2 linked regions of the Homo sapiens genome follow. Changing the gene in region 2 together with the main gene of any one other region gives a genetic interaction. Each region holds a gene or a part of one and is shown on either strand. Other genes may lie near its edges.

Evidence for each region.
Region 1: changes in RAB1A (region 2) and COG5 are lethal when combined (synthetic lethality), as found in Homo sapiens cells (one study listed by BioGRID).

The regions. Positions count from the first base shown.
Region 1 is NC_000007.14:107,559,831-107,568,657, reverse strand, and holds the start of COG5 (conserved oligomeric Golgi complex subunit 5), read left to right. Parts: upstream 1-4,737; 5' UTR 4,738-4,761; coding exon 4,762-4,855; intron 4,856-8,827. Other genes in the region: DUS4L (tRNA-dihydrouridine(20a/20b) synthase [NAD(P)+]-like), read right to left, coding at 1,472-1,587; DUS4L-BCAP29 protein, read right to left, coding at 1,472-1,587.
Region 2 is NC_000002.12:65,098,072-65,106,653, forward strand, and holds part of RAB1A (ras-related protein Rab-1A), read right to left. Parts: intron 6,736-8,582; coding exon 6,663-6,735; intron 1-6,662. UniProt on the Homo sapiens protein: The small GTPases Rab are key regulators of intracellular membrane trafficking, from the formation of transport vesicles to their fusion with membranes.

The sequences.
Region 1 (8,827 bases), on a different chromosome or scaffold from region 2:
TGTTCTGCAAAAGATCCTGTTAGGAGCATGAAAGACAAGCCATATACAGGGAGAAAATACGTGCAAATCACACATCTGACAAAGCAGAATATATATCTAGAGTATAATAGAAAACAAGAAAACAAACAAATGGACAAAAGCACTTGAATAGATACTTCTACAAAGACAACATACAAATGGCCAATAAACACACAAAAAGATGTTCAGCATCATTAATCATTAGGGAAATGCAAATTAAAACTGCAATGAGATACCACTTCACACCCATTAGGATGATTATAATAATAAAATAAAAACTCCCAGAACATAACAAGTGTTGATGAGGATGTGGAGAAATTAAAACTCTTGTTCACTGCTGGTGGTAAGGTAACATGGTGCAGCTGCTATGGAAAGCAGTACAGTAGTTGCTCAAAAAATTAAACATAGAATCACCATATGATCCAGCAATTCTACATCTGGGTACATAGTCAAAAAGAATTGAAAGCAGGGTCTCAGAGACCTGTTACGAACCATGGGTATTTGTATATGGGTATTTGTACACCCATAGTTCATGACAGTATTATTTGCAGTAGCCAAAAGGTGGAAGTTATCTTGTGTTCTATCAATATATGAATGGATATCAACAGATGAATGAACAAAATATACATAAAATGGAATATTATTCAGCCTTAAAAAGGAACAAGTCTGATATATGCTACAACATGAATGAACCTTGAGGATGTTATGCTGCATAAAATATTAGCAAAATAAATCCAGTTCTGAACAAATACGTATAAGACTTATATGAGGTACCTAGAGTAGTGAAGTTCATAGAGGGAGAAAGTAGAATAATGGTTGCCAGGGGCTGCTGTGAGGAACAGTGGAATGGGGAGTCACAGTTTAATGTGATAGAATTTCCATCTTCTAAGATGAAAAGAGTTTTAGAGATCAGATGCACAACAATGTGAATGTAATTAACACTGCTGAACTGTATACTTAAAAATGATCGAGAGGTAAATTTTATGTTACGTATATTTTATAACAAACTTCTAAAAAAACTCAATAGTAAAAGAGCAAACAATCCAATTAGAAGATGAGCAAAAGATACGAAGAAATATTTCTTCGAAAACTGAACACACAACTACCTTAGGACCCATAATTGCACTCCTATTTGTCCCAAGACTTAAGTTCACATAAAAATCTATACATCAATACTTATATCTATTTAATATCCATTATATACTTATAGGTAGGAGTTACAACCACCACCATTTTTATAGATATAAAAAGTGCAGCTCAGAGAAGTTAATTGTTTACTCAGGATCACATATATACTAGGCAAGTAGTAGCATCATGACTCAATTCTAAGTCATGATTCCAAAGCTAAGAGTTTGAAGTTCCCATATGGTGGGTGGTCTTACAGTACTTTTAAAAAGTCAGAGCATAAAAGGGAAATTTCATCTTAGTTCATTAATCATTTTGCAACACTTACTTTGAATATCGAACCATTGGGGCACAGACTTTTACCAGCTGTCCAGAATGAAACATTTCTATGGGATCTTTTTTTCTTTCCTGACATATTGTCGTTTGCATGCAGTCACTCTTCATTAATACAGATATGTTTCAAATCTGAAAAAGACAATAAGCTTGTATAGAGAAAATATGTTTTCACTATATTAATTCCATTCTAACAATTTCAACTGCCAACAACATATATTTTTTATCAGGCTTGTGGGCTCAGAAATTTTTTTATTAATAGCTTATTTTCACAGTATCCAATATGATACTATAGAATGCTGCCTCTATTTGTAAGATAAATAGATGTGGAAAACTACCCAAGATAGTTGTGGAAACACAAGATGCAGAAAACGAGATTTTTTTTTTTTCCCTAGTTTACCATGTTGTAAGTTTTCATGTTATTTAAAAATTTTTTACATGTTACTTTGTTGGGATTGGTAAGCCAAGAAATTTGGTTTGAATTATTTTATATATGATACTCGACTGGCATTTGGAAATATCTTGTTTTATTCAGGAAAGTTAAATGGCATTAATAGAGCAACTCTTAAGTAGTCAGTGTTTCAAAAGATATGCTGGTGCTTTTATTGTAATTCTTGAATCCTGTTCTGTCTGTGAATCAGAAGATAAACAAACGTTAATTATTTTTAAAAATTTTAATGTGATATTATCTAGTGAAAATTTCAATTATAATTCTACAATTGCATTGTAAATCACTTTTATACCCCAAGAGGTACAGGTACGAGTGATGAAATTATGGAGTTTGTAAATGTTTTACATTTGCTATACTTAAAATCCTACTATTTCACAGTGTTGGCTACTTTTCATATTCCAGTCCTTGGCCTCAGTAACTTAGAAACAGGTATGTATGAAGGAAAAATGAAGCAGAAAATAACAACAACAAAAAAAAGAATCAGATATGGGCCAACTTTAGAATGGTCTAATTGCTCAAACTTTAGAGTCTTTAACCTTTAGGCAAGGAGTTGAAATTAAAAATAGCCAAGGTACTTAAGGATGTCAGGATCTTGCAAGAAACCGCTGGAAGCACCAATATTTAAGTAACAGAGGAAAAGGGGAGAGCAAAAGAGACTGAAGATGAACTTTGGAGCTGGGAGGAATAAACCTAAAGAGTGATACTCAGAAAACGAGAGAGACCATTATGAAGGAAGGAGGGGATAGGTATCTTAAACATCAAAGTAAGGCAAAAATAAAGCGCAATGGCAACAAGGTCATTAGTGATTTTAGCAAGAATTACTTCATTTTTATCCACTCCTGCAGTCATAGTAAATGGCATACAGAAGGCCTCAATATTTATTTGCTGAAAGAATAAATCAGTAGGTTTCAGGGGACTGGGCTCACACCTGTAAACTCAGCATTTTGGGAGGCCAAGGTGGGAGGCTTGCTTAAGGCCAGGAGTTTGAGACCAGCTTGGGCAATATAGTGAGACCCCCATCTCTAAAAAAATTATAAAAATCAGCTGGGCGTGGTAGCAAGCGACTGTGATCCCAACTACTCCAGAAGCTTGGGCAGGAGGATCCCTTGAGCCCAGGAGGTTGAGGCTGCAGTGAGCCACGATCCTGCCACTGCACTCCAGCCTGGGTAACAGAGCTAGACCCCAACTCAACAAAACAAAACAATCAGTAGCTTTCTACCTTAGTTGTACACTACAATGACCCGAGGAGCTTTTAAGAATTAGCATGCCCAAGCCATACCCTAGACCAATTAAATCCAAACGTCTGGGCTCAGGATGCAGGCATCAGTGTTTTTATTAAAGCTCTTCAGGTGATTTCAATGTGCAGCTAAGCTTGGAATTACTGGAATAAGTAAATCCAAAGATTCCAAAGCACCTGGTACAATTGTTTGTTTAAATGGGTTCCTACCTTACCTATTAACTCCTTTTAGAATATGGATTGAGTCTTATGTTTGTAAACTCATGAGAGCATGCAGAGTAGAGGGGTCAAAACTTTCGCTGTATGAATGAATATTACTCACTCTTCTAAAATCTTCCACTGGGGGGAATAAAGCCAAGGAAGGAAAAACAATTCCTAATTCACAAGTAATGAATGAATCACCCCTATTCCCATCATGACTAAGATCTTACATACTAGGGAAAATCCTCTGAGACAAAGAGAGCATAATGCAGTGTAGCATAAGACTTGCTTACCTGAGGTGTTATGAGTATGAAATGCATTGAGTTATAAAATACTTAGAACAGCGATAAGCACAGGATAAGTAATAGCACCTTTTTGAAACAGAATGTAGAAAACCACGTAGCTCTGGAACTGGATAAAATTGGTTTCCTGGATACATACCTACTGTACAAAATGAAAAAGTCATCTTCCAGCTTCTTTTTGCGAAGAAGCTTAAGACTGTCTTGCATACTTGTGGTTGCCTGACCCTGTTAATTTATCAGTATTTATCTTAGAAGAAAGAAATCTAGGTCAAAAACGCGAACGTATTAGTAAAGAAGATACAATGGGAACCAACCTGATGCTCTTACAGCGTCAATACTGTTAGTTGAGATGTGGACCATCTATCAGTTTGTAATTAAGAAAAAGTCTGGCACGTGACTGAAACTGAGGAAGAAGTAGAAAAGGCAAAAGGTCAAAGGTCTCATGGGAAGGAAGGAGGGTAGAGACAGTGAGTTTTATTGGTCCTTTTATGGTTCAGACTTCCTTCTTCATCGACTCTCCCTAATTCTCTTCACTGTTCATCCCCAGCAACTTTTCTTCCCAAGCATTTCCTGCGGGCTTTTATTACCCCAGGAGTGCCAATCAAGGCGTGGAACAGATAAAGCTGTGTAGCAACTAACGCGTGACTCTTGTGAGTGTGGAGGGCAAACGAAGCTCCCTGAAACCTCCGCTCTGCTCTCCTGCCTTACGCCGCGCGGCCCCTGTTCTGAGGTTTAATACTTGCTTCACAGATAAGCGCTGCGGCCACGTTCCGGTGCCCACCTTCTCCTTGGCTAGGGCACGACGCCAGCCCAGGGGGCGCGGCCCTGAGCTGCTGCGAGAGACAGCTGAAAGCGCCGGCCCGACGGCCTTGGCTCCCTCGGTGCGCTGGGCGCAGAGCACTCGGACCCTGGGCGCCCACTGCTCGAGTACCTGCGCGGCTCCTAGCCAGGCTTAGCCCAGGCGCGGGCTGAGAGTCAGTTCGCCAGGTGGGCCTGGAGCCATGGGCTGGGTGGGCGGGCGGCGCCGGGATTCTGCGTCACCACCTGGGCGGAGCCGTTCTGCTGCTGACGACATCAACCCGGCACCTGCCAACATGGAAGGTGGCGGCGGCAGCGTCGCTGTAGCTGGCCTCGGAGCTCGAGGCTCTGGAGCGGCTGCAGCTACAGTCCGGGAACTTCTGCAGGACGGTAAGGAGACGGGGTCTGACCAGGTCGTGGGGTTGGGGGTCTGCGCTGCTCCGCACCTGGACAGCGAGGTGGACCCAACCCGTTGCTTTGCAGAAAGTTTTCCAGTCTGGACGTGACCACTCCCCTCCGCCCGGCCCCCTGGCTTGGGTACTGTTCTAGCCAACCTATTTACTCTGGGACTGGCTCCCTCTTTTCTGGAGTCTTGGGGACACTTGGTTTCTGTGTGTTCCTCATTTCAACTCGACCCCCCCCCCCCCCATGCCTCCAGCTTCCCTGAAGTTTCGGGAGCCCAAACCCTGTGGACCGCGTTGGCAGCCACCGGCTGCTGCCGCAGTTCTTGACGAAGGGGTGTAGCGTTCGAGCTCTTCAAAAGTGTAAGCTCTAGAACAGACGGCAGACGCATAATGAAATAGGGCCTTGTTTTAAAGTAGAGCTGGAAACGCTTACTCCTTTAACAAATGGACTGTACAGGTGACCCCTCTTACAGGCTGGTTTTTTTTTTCCTCCTTTATGAGGCAGTTATCTACAGTGACACGTGGGGGAGGGTTTGAGACATTTGTTCAGGTTGGGATTAACCATTTGTACAGAATCTAGCAGTCAGATTTTATTGCTAGTCAGTTTGGAGAGAAGTTGCCCAAAATAAGAAAAGTTAGATATAATATACTTGAAAAGCATATTCAGTTGTGTCAATCCAGTTACCATGTCCCGAATCTCTTATCCTTCAGAATAAAGTTCACATTTATAAGCATAAAAATAAAGCCCTTCTCACCTGTTCTTAATTTTTTCTCTAGTGGCCATCGCATTCTACCTTGTACTAAAATCATTTGTATACTTGTTTTAATCTCTTCTGTATTGCAAACTTTTTTTAATATCCCACAGTGTGAATAGCAGTATCTTGCATACAGTAGGTGCAGAATGTTTTTTAAATTCATCATCGCAGTTAGAAGCACATGCACACATTTGAAGACCGAAGTGGGTAATAAATGAAATAAAGTTCCAAATTATTGTTTATTTTCTCTGACTGTTAAATATTTTATTGTCATCCTGAATTACGTGCCTTTTCATGATAATTTATGTACTTTTGTCAAAAGCAATGATGTTTTCTGAACTATTTCATGTTGGAAACTCTAGGACCGGGTCTCTGTCTAAAACTTGGCTAAACTGAATTTAAACTTTAGATACAAGGCAGAGACCCTGATATATTTGCAGTTGCTCCTGATACACGTGCAATTTTTGCCCTCAAGTAGTTCACCATCTAGTAGAGGAAATAATCTTGTAGACTATAAAGGTAGGTGCTGTAATATAGTGATGTAAGATAGCAGTAGGATTGCATATAAAGTAGAGCATTAATACAGAGGAGAATGATAACTGGGGGTTGGAAACTGGTTAGGAAATGTCAGAAAAGGCTTTCTAGGTGGAGACGTTTTAAACTGTAGACAGGACTTCCCCAGGTGAACAGTGGAACATTGGATATATGTTTCAGTAGGATGTATTTCAGGAATTGTAATCAGTTCTTGGACGGTAAATACTCTTCAGTTCTGCCTTCTGTATTTTCCTCCTTGGTTCTCTGCCATTCTCCACAGTGATTGTTTAAATCTTCTTTACCCTTTTCAAACCTTTCGCTTCAAGCTCAACAAATGACTTTAAGCTTCCCTGGGGAGAAAAAGAGGATCCATCAGATGTGAACTTTCTCCATTTCTTGCCCATCAAACCTATGAATTTAACCTCAACGTATAACCATCTGTTGCACCTTTTTTCCCTTGCCTTTTCAATTGCAACGGAAGTGGAGCCTCTGCTCCTTTCTTTCTTTCTTTCTTTTTTTTTTTTGAGACGGAGTCTCGCGCTGTTGCCCAGGCTGGAGTGCAGTGGCGCAGTCTCGGCTCACTGCAAGCTCTGCCTCCGGGGTTCACGCCATTCTCCTGGCTCAGCCTCCTGAGAAGCTGGGACTACAAGCGCCCATCACTATGCCTAGCTAATTTTTTGTATTTTTAGTAGAGACGGGGTTTCACCGTGTTAGCCAGGATGGTCTCGATCTCCTGACCTCGTGATCTGCCTGCCTTGGCCTCCCAGAGTGCTGGGATTACAGGCGTGAGCCACCACGCCCGGCCGAGTCTCTGCTCCGTTCTAAGGATAGTGCCTCCTACTTTGCTCTGGATTTTTTCTTCCTGTTTCCTGGGGACTCAGTCACCCTCAATCTATGCCATTGAAGTAACTTTGCAAGGTTTTCAATGACTTTCTTGCACATACGACAAATGGACACTTTTTTGGTCCTTTAACTTGTAATAACATTTGATTCCTTTCTTGAAATACTTTCCTCATGCGGTTTATGGGTGCCGTGCTTTTTAAAAATTCTTAATTCTCTAGGTGCTCTTTTCCAGGTTCCTGTAGATACTTGTCAGTTCAGTTTGTTCTGAATTAAGCGGTCTCTGTTGCCCCTCCACCCCCAACATTCCTGAGGAATTAAGCATTTCCAGCAGAAACTTTGATTCACTATATCGGGGATTTGGCCAATGACAGAGTATCGGATTGATAGGCTTGGTGAGCACAGATGCATAGTATGAAAATTGGTGAGGTGTTTCTGATATGCCCTCTATGGGAATGAGGAAACTATAAAAGAGAAGCATTATATAATTCATCTCTTTAAAGGCTGTCAGCCCTCAAATGCCACATCCCGTTGTGTTTGATCTTTGTAAGCTCTATGACAATACTAATACTTACTTTCTTTATCCCTTCTTTTGGCTTTTGCCATTCTTTTTTGTTTCTCTTTCTCCCTGAGCACTCTTTAGTCTCTTTGATTGCTTTCATTTTCTCTGTCCACCCCCCACTTTCCTATCTTCCTCATTTTCCTGCCTTTTTGTGCATTCTAAAACTTTTTTTTCCTAAATCATCTGGTCTTGTCTGTGGTTTCAGTATGCTCCTTACCTGTCTTCTGAATTATAAAACTATATTTTTAACTGCCTACTGGACATTTCTATCTTAATTTTTTTATGATATGCCATTCCATAACCTGTATGGACATTTCTATTTTGATAGTAAACAAGCAGTGCTAGTTCTATAATACACATGAAAACCTACATATGAACAAATAGTACAAGGTTTACATATGAAAAAATGAAATGAATTCACTTTTTCTGTTCTTCTCTCCTAATCTTTTCCTCTGGTAGTTTCTGTTATCTGTGTTTACTATGTTGTTAGGTAAATGTGTGCTTGTTCCCCTTGTAAATTATGAATTCCTTGGAGGCAGAAGTTTATGTTCATCTTGGTATATTCAGTGTCTAGTGGTCTAAGTTAGTGTAAAACTAAATTTCCTGTATCAGTTGCTTAATCCAGAAATTTGGGAATCCTTGTTTGTTCTACCTAATCACCCATTTTCAGCTTGTCACTAAGTCCTACATCCTGTGCAGTGTGAATATTTGTCAAATTTGTCACTTTGACATTCTTAGTGCCACTTATTCAGGTCTTAGTCGGGCCTTCATTATGTCTTAGGCTGTTAACATAGTACTTTACTGGCCTCTGTGGTTCTATTTCTTGGGTGTATTGGTTAATTGGCTTTGTGGGAAAATAGAAAAAGCCCTGATTTTTGTAGTGTTTGCTGATTACCATGGTGTAAATACTCTCACCATCGTAGATTTTAAGATATCTGTGTGAAAGGTCAACTGGCTCACAGAATTCCTGAAAATGTAACAGTCTGTGCTCAAGAGCCAATAAGAGGCAACTTCAGCACATTGCTGTGTGACTAATCCTTTTTCCATCATCCTCTATACAGCTGCCAGGATTATTGTTCTGTAACATAAAGCTGATAGTGCAATTTCTTGGGTTAAATGAGATATGGTTAAACATTTCAAATGTCTTACAAACCTCTTTTCAAACTGCGCTCCAACCTTTGGAACCACATCTGTCATTCTTTACCATTTCTGTCCAATATACATGTGCTATGATTTAGACACACTGAAATCAGTATTCCCCTTGTTT
Region 2 (8,582 bases):
GGGGGAAATAATTAACAATTAAATGTATTGTTCAGTGGAGCAGATGCAAGTCTAAGTGGAAAAAAAAAAACTGTTGTTCAAGAGTAAATAAAAAAAAAGTTTACTTTTATCTACAGTCCAAATTTATGAATGAAATGTATAAAGTATAACATGCTGACAACAGCCACTCCATCCACTTTCAGTACTTACTTCATATTCTGATTACAAAGCACTACTTAACTGTAGTTTCTTTCCTTAAGATCTCTACAATAGCCATTCTTTATTTTTTCCAAACATCATCTCTTGCCAAATTCTTTACATACATCATATAGAAAAATATTTTATATTTTCAATGATTATGAATAATTTTTCTAATCACTAATCAGCAAAACTCTTGCGACCCACCCACCCAATTTATTCACCACAAAACAACAATTTCACTCCGCTTTTTCTTAGAAGTCAATCTTGCTTCCTAATTATGATTTTTTTTTTTAGATATAATGCACATAACATAAAAGTCACCCTTTTGAAGTGGACAATTCAGTGGTCCTTATACATTCACAAGGTTGCAAACTACAACCACGAATTCCAGGACATTTTCTTCACTCCAGAAAGAACCCGTCTTCACTCCCTGGCAACCACTAATCTACTTTCTCTTTAGATTTGCCAATTTTGGACATTTCGTATAAATGGAATCATAAAATATGTGGCCCTCTGTGTCTGTCTTCCTTCATTTAGCAGAATGTTTTCAAGGTTCATCCATGTTGTACCATGTAACAGTACTTCTTTTTTTTTTTTTTTTTGAGGCAGGATGTTGCTCTGTTGCCCATGCTGGAGTGCAGTGTCATGATCTCAGCTCACTGCAACCTCTGTCTCCCGGGGTCCAAGCAATCCTCATGACTCAGCCACCTGAGTAGTAGGGACTACAGGCGTGCATCACCACGCCTGCCTAATTTTTGTACGTTTAGTAGAGACAGGGTTTCGTGATGATGGTCAGGCTGGTCTCAAACTCCTGACCTCTAGTGATCCCCCTGCCTGAGCCTCTCAAAGTGCTGGGATTACAGGTGTGAGCCACCATGCCTGGCCCATTTTATTGGCTGAATAATATTACATGTACTACAAATATACAACATTTTATCCATTCATAAATTGATTTGGGTTGTTTCCACTTCTTGGCTATTATGAATAATGCTGCCATGAACATTTGTGTACAAGTTTTCCTGTGAATATATGTTTCCTGTCAATTTTTTAACCTAATGTTAAACTTTTAAAATTATAACTGCTTCTTGCAAGTACCTGCCATGAAATTTTATTCAGAATGGAATAAAAATATTTCTCGTGAAAAGATATATGAATGAACAGACCAGGCTATCATCATATGAACCACAAAGCACCACCTAAGAAGTACTCTGTCAACAAAGATGGACCTTAATCGAATCAGGTCTAATGAGAACGGCACTGCCAAACAGAACTTCCTGTGACAATGGAAAGGTTCTATAAGCTGTGCTAGCCAATATGGTAGCCATTAGCCCTATGCAGCTTGTGAAACAAGAAACTAAGTTTTTGATTTTTTCAATTATTTTTCCCCCTTAAAGGGACAGGGTCTTGATGTCTCCCAGGCTAGAGTACAATCGTAGCTTACTGAAGCCTTGAACTCCTGCACTCAAGCAATCCTCCCACCTTGGCCTCCCAAAGTGCTGGGATTACAGGTGTGAGCCACCAAACTTTTTCAATTTTAATTAATTTAAATTTAAATAGCTACATAGAGCTAGTAGCTACTCTAAGGATAGTGCAGTTCTAGGTCTTCTAATTACAGAAAGAGGGACAAACAAATAAGCATAAGGACATCACAAGGAAGCAAAATGACAAATCTAGAATATTGGACAATCTACAGGACAAGTGCTTCAGTTTCTGCAAAAAGTCAATGACATAAAAAATATATAAATAAAAAAGATAAGGTATAAAACTCTAGATTAAAAGACTAAGCAAGAAAACAACCAAATGGAAACTGTATTTTGCAGGTTGATAATGGCAATGTCATTTTATAAGAAAATGTTTTTAGAAATATGGGCCGGGCATGATGGCTCACACCTGTAATACCAGCACTTTGGGAGGCCAAGGTGAGTGGATCACAAGGTCAGGAGTTTGAGATCAGCCTGGCCAAGATGGTGAAACCTCATCTCTATTAAAAATACAAAAAATTAGCTGGACGTGGTGGCGGGCGCCTGTAATCCCAGCTACCCGGGAGGCTGAGGAAGGAGAATCACTTGAACCCGGGAGGTGAAGGTTGCAGTGAGCCGAGACTGTGCCACTGCACTCCAGCCCAGGCGACAAGGCATGTCTCTGTCTCAAAAAAAAAAAAAAAAAAAAAAAGTTATGTTGTAATTGAGTGCCTAATAAGTATCAGGTACTATAGAAGTATATAGAGGCCAGGCGCAGTGGCTCACATATGTAATCCCAGCACTTTGGGAGGCCAAGGTGGGAGGCTCACTTTAGATCAGGAGTTCAAGACCAGCCTGGCCAACATGGTGAAACCCTGTCTCTACTAAAAATACAAAAAATTAGTGGGTGTGATGGCACACGCCTGTAAACCTAGCTAGTCAGGAGACCAAGATGGAGAATCGCTTGAACCCATGAGGTGGAGGCTGCAGTGAGCCGAGATTGCACGACTGCACTCCAGCCTGGGCGACAGAGCGAGACTCCATCTCAAACCAAAAAAAAAAAAAAAAAAATGCAGAGAACAAAATGAATGCAATAAATATTCATGTAGCACATCTATCCCCCAGGTACTTGGATAGAAATACTGAATTCTTGGCCGGGTACAGTGGCTCACGCCTGTAATCCCAGCACTTTGGGGAGCAGAGGTGCACATATCACTTGAGCTCAGGAGTTGGAGACCAGCCTGACCAACATGGTGAAACCCCATCTCTACTAAAAATACAAAAATTAGCCAGGCACAGTAGTACACGCCTGTAATACCAGCTACTCGGGAGGCTGAGGCATGAGAATCACTTGAACCCGGGAGGTGGGAGTTATAGTGAGCTGAGATCATGCCACTGTACTCCAGCCTGGATGACAGAGCTAGACTCCATCTCAAAAAAAAAAAGAAAAAGAAAGAAATGCTGAATTCTTGTAAATCTCTAAATGACCTTTACTCCCATGCCTGAGCCGTTACTATTCGTCTGCCCAAAAGCCTCAGTTATCTCTCTCTGCATAACCCTACTTACTCCCCAGCCCCAAGGTCATGTGGCATTTATTCATCCTTCAGTTTTGAGCTCAGGCAATACTGAGTGTCCAAACAATTTCTTCAACTCCTCAGCCAATAGATTCTTCCCTCTGTGCCCCCAGAGCTTATTGCACATTTCTTTATTATAGTCCTCACGATTGTCTCTATTAATATTTTGAGGGTATGGGGATCAGCATTTTAAAAATAGTTTCCAGGTATTATTGGAAAACCTTTGACTTCAAGCAATGGACATCCCAGAGAGGGTTTTCCTTGAGGCACAAACGCCTGAGGCTACAGCTAGATTCTTCCCACCTACCGAGAGTTGCTTAAGAATTATGCTTAATTTTAATATTTGCCAATTTAATAAAAATTAAATGACACCTAAGTTTAACTTAAAGGCCTTTAATTACAAATAAAGTTGAGCCTTTTTTTTTTTCCATATTTATTGGCAATTTGTATTACTTCCTTTTTTTTTTTTTTTTTTTTTTTTGAGATGGAGTTTCGCTCTTGTTGCCCAGGCTGGAGTGCAATGGTGCGATCTCGACTCACCACAACCTCCGCCTCCTGGGTTCAAGCAATTCTCCTGCCTCAGCCTCCCAAGTAGCTGGGATTACAGGCATGCGCCACCACATCCGGCTAATTTTGTATTTTTAGTAGAGACAGGGTTTCTCCATGTTGGTCAGGCTGGTCTCGAACTCCTGACCTCAGATGATCCGCCAGCCTCAGCCTCTAAATGCTGGGATTACAGGCGTGACCCACCACACCCAGCCAGCAATTTGTATTACTTCTTTTTTCAACTGACTGCTCATGTATTTGCCACTATTTCCATTAGGAGAAATATTCTTTTCTTGTTGATGTGCAAATGTGCTTTATATGTTGAGAATACCAATCCTCATATATATATATTTGCTATTGCCATTAGTTTTCTAACATTTTTGTGCCTGTGATAAATTAATTTTAATAGTCAAATTTAGCAGTGATTTCTTGCTTTTTTCTTATTTTAAAAAATACCTTCACAAACCAAGATTAAAGAGCCACCTATGTTTTATTCTAGTACTCATGGTTTTATTTTTAACTGTTATATAAAAAGAATTATACATTATTTAATATTTTTTAAATAACCTTCATTAATATCGGCACTCATCAGAAAAGTCATATGTATTTAGGATACTGTCAAGTGGTAAACTCTAAGTTTTTTCAAATTCTAATTTTCCATGATAAACTTAAATTTTATTTCAGCCAACAAATGCTTGCAGCTACTTCCCTTGAAATGACTATCACAGTTCATCTGAGAAAATCTGTCAAATAGCCAATTCTGTTCTAATCTGTCTGTTAGCTGTTCTTTCAAGTTAAAAAAAAAAAAAAAAATGTCCAGGTGCAGTAGTTCACGCCTGTAATCCCAGCACTTTGGGAGGCTGAGACAAGCGGATCACGAAGTCAGGAGTTCGAGACCAGCCTGGCCAACATGGTGAAACCCCATCTCTACTAAAAATACAAAAACTAGCTGGGCTTGGTGGCAGGTGCCTATAATCCCAGCTACTTGGGAGGCTACGGCAGAAGAATTGCTTGAACCCGAGAAGCGGAGGTTGCAGTGAGCCGAGATTGTGCCACTGCACTCCAGCCTGGGCAACAAAGCAATATTCCATCTCAAAAAAAAAAAAAGAAATGGTGTTCCACAGAAAAAAATAAAGCAGTTAGCTCAGCTTACAACTCAAAAAACTACAAATGCTTTTCTTTTCTCCAAAATAACCAACACACTAGCCAGTATGCAGTAAAAAGTGCTTTCTCCAGCACTTTGGGAGGCTGAGGCACATGCATCGCTTGAGCTCAGAAGTTTGAGAGCAGCCTGTGCAACACAGTGAGACCTTGTCACTACAAAAAAATACAAAAATCAGCCAGGCATGATGGCGCATCCACTTGGGAGGTCCCAGCCACTTGGGAGGCTGAAGTGGGAGAACAGCTTGAGCCTGGGAGCCAGACGCCACTGCACTCTAGCCTTGGCAACACAGCCAGAATCTGTCTCAAAAAAAAAAAAAAACATTGTTTTATGTGAACTTCCCATTTCTTCACAAATATTTTTAAAGGAATACTCATGGATCAACATTTTTCAAAAATTAATCATTTTAACTGTTTTGTCAAGGACAATCTTCAATAAAAATGGCACGGCTTGTTTTTGTTCCTGTGAGGGCACAGAGGTAAAGAATGCCATCACCATGAGTACAATTTGGAGCTTAGCGCTGCCTTGATGTGTACCAAGCCAGCAGCAATTTTACCCACATGCTTTTGTACCAGAGCCAATGTCATCACTGAAAAACGCAAACATCTTTTATATTAGTATTATTACCAAGTAAATATTTCCTTACAAATACTAACATCTTAGTATTATTAGGATATTTTGACCTCATGGGCTACCTGAGAGGGTCTTGGTAACCCCCAGGAGTCTTTGGTCCATGCTCTGAGAAACAATGATCTCTAGAAGGGAAACATGCTAATTTGTTTTTTTATTTTTTTTCTTTTTTTTTTGAGACAGTCTTGCTCTGTTGCCAGGCTGGAGTGCAGTGGCACCATCTCAGCTCACTGCAACCTCCGCCTCCTGGGTTCAAGCGATTCTCCTGCCTCAGCCTCCCGAGTAGCTGGGACTACAGGCGTGTGGCACCACACCCAGCTAATTTTTTGTATTTTTAGTAGAGACGGGGTTTCACCGTGTTAGCCAGGATGGTCTCGATCTCTTGACCTTGTGATCCGCCCGTCTCGGCCTCCCAAAGTGCTGGGATTACAGGCGTGAGCCACCGCACCTGGCCAGGAAACATGCTAAATTTAAAGGTAGTTGATAAAGACTATGAAGGACACTGTGGATTCTGTTAAGTCAAAAGTCCTTTATCTGTCAGCTTCAGCATTTAGAACTATGCCATTGGCCAACGAAGTTTGTCCAAGACCCTACTTTTTCTTTTATTAACTTTTTTTTTCAGAGACAGAGTCATGCTATGTTGTCCAGGTTGGTCTCAAAACTCCTAGACTCAAGTGATCCTTCCACCCTCAGCACCCTGAGTAGCTGAGACTGCAGGCATGATCCACTGCGTCACCTGGCTCTGCTTTTTCTTCTTATTCTACTAAAGTTTAATTTAAAGATTTATTTTCATCAAGTCGCTTTCAACACAGGCCACCAACTACCCCTTTAACTTGCTGCCTATATTGGAACTGCTGTTTGACTCTGACCAAAAGTATTAGACATTCTGACTTTATAACCATACTTCACTGAATTTCTTTTAAGAGCAACAATATTTTTCTATTTAACAGTCCAAGATACCACTGGGGATGTATATTTGGAGTCTTTAAATATATAAATTCTGGAAGAATTAACTTATTCTGAATAAAACTGTTTAATTTTATCTACCTAGAAAACATACATAGCATTAATTGTACCATTAATTGTAAAGACATTTCAATTTCAACTTACTGCAAACCTAAGAAGAAGGCAAGACTTTCCAACCCCTGAGTCGCCAATCAGAAGTAACTTGAATAAATAATCACTGCAAAAAGAAAAAGAAAATGATGTTAATAAAAAGCACACTGCATTGCTATAAGCTATACAAAAACAAAAACACAGCTACAAATAACAACTCACTGTGAAGACTACATCTCCTATAAAGCCCATGCATGGCTTAAGCCAAAACTGCAAACAGCCACAGCCCTTCTGACAGATCACTAAACATGATAAAATTATGTAAAAAGTAGGCAATGCCACCTATGATCTCTAACATCAGTGAACTTCCACTTAAAAAGAAAGAAGGAAAAGAAAAATAAGTGATACGCACTCTTGGACTGCCCAAGATACTTAAAACATTCTAAATAAATCCCACTCCTCTATAGTATTAGAATACAGAAAGGTAACTTTTCATTGTTTTTGCCCATGAAATATTAGTCTCTCCTTCAAATTCTAAGATCAGGCCAGGCGCAGTGGCTCACACCTGTAATCCCAACACTTTGGGAGGCTGAGGCAGGCAGTTCACTTGAGGTCAGGAGTTCAAGACCAGCCTGACCAACATGGTGAAACCCCGTCTCCATTAAAAATACAAAAATTAGCTGGGCATGGTTGCGCATGCCTGTAATCCCAGCTACCTGGTAGGCTGAGGCAGAAGAATTGCTTGAACCCAGGAGGCAGAGGTTGCAGTGAGCCGAGATCGTGCCACTGCATTCCAGCTCCAGCCTGGGCAATAAGAACGAAACTCTGTCTCAAAAAAAAAAAAAAAAAAAAAAAAAAAAATTCCAAGATCAAATAATTTCATAGCACTCCTCCAATGAAGGGGTTCTCACGATCCTTCTCTAGCATCCAGCTTGAATTCTCCCGTCAAAACAATGTTCATATAACTTCTGAAAGCCCATATTATAAACTAGAAATGTGATAAATTCACAGGCTGTTTATCCAAGTGCAAAACTTGACTAACACTCTACACTTGTATTAAAGCATTTTTCAGAACCATTGAAAACCAAGCTTTTTTTTTTTGAGACGGAGTCTTGCTCTGTCACCCAGGCTGGAGTGCAGTGGCGCGATCTCGGCTCACTGCAACCTCCAACTCCCTGGTTCAAGTGATTCTCCTGCCTCAGCCTCCCGAGTAGCTGGGATTATAGGCATGCGCCACCACGCCCAGCTAATTTTTGTATTTTTAGTAGACACGGGTTTCACCGTGTTGGCCAGGATGGTCTCGATCTCCTGACCTCATGATCTGCCCGCCTCAGCCTCCCAAAGTGCTGGAATTACAGGTGTGAGCCACCGCACCCAGTGATAAAACAAGGCTCTCTTTATGTATCTCTAACATTGCCAGGCCTAACTCAAAAACTATCCCCAGAGATTCCTTCATGGAACTAAGACAACATTATTATTCACCCACAGTCTCCAAGGAAATCCCTCATAGATCCTTCCCAACTCAGACACCAGTTCTATGCATTCTTTTAAGCAATTTCAAAAGGACAAAAACCTTAGAATTTATATATCGTTTTTGTAGAAGATATACATGATTTTGTATTTTGTCCTTTTTGATTTACTTTCAAAAATATGCTAAAGTGAAAACCACGTCACAATTTAGATTAAAATTATTTACATGTAAACAAGACATAAAACTTATTTTTTTTGTTTTAATTGCACTGCCAAAGAAGAGAGGATATAAAACTTCTATAAGCGATTATCTTTGTGAATATTCAACTATTACGTAGGTTTACATAATGATATGCATTACTTAAAACATTGTTTGGGTTTTAGCAAATTACCATATTATACTTATTGTTATACTTATTGTCTTTAATTATATATGAGGAAAATAATTTTTTAAAAATCCCAAGTGCCAGTCAGCAGCAAAATAGAAGTCAGAGAAGGAAACAA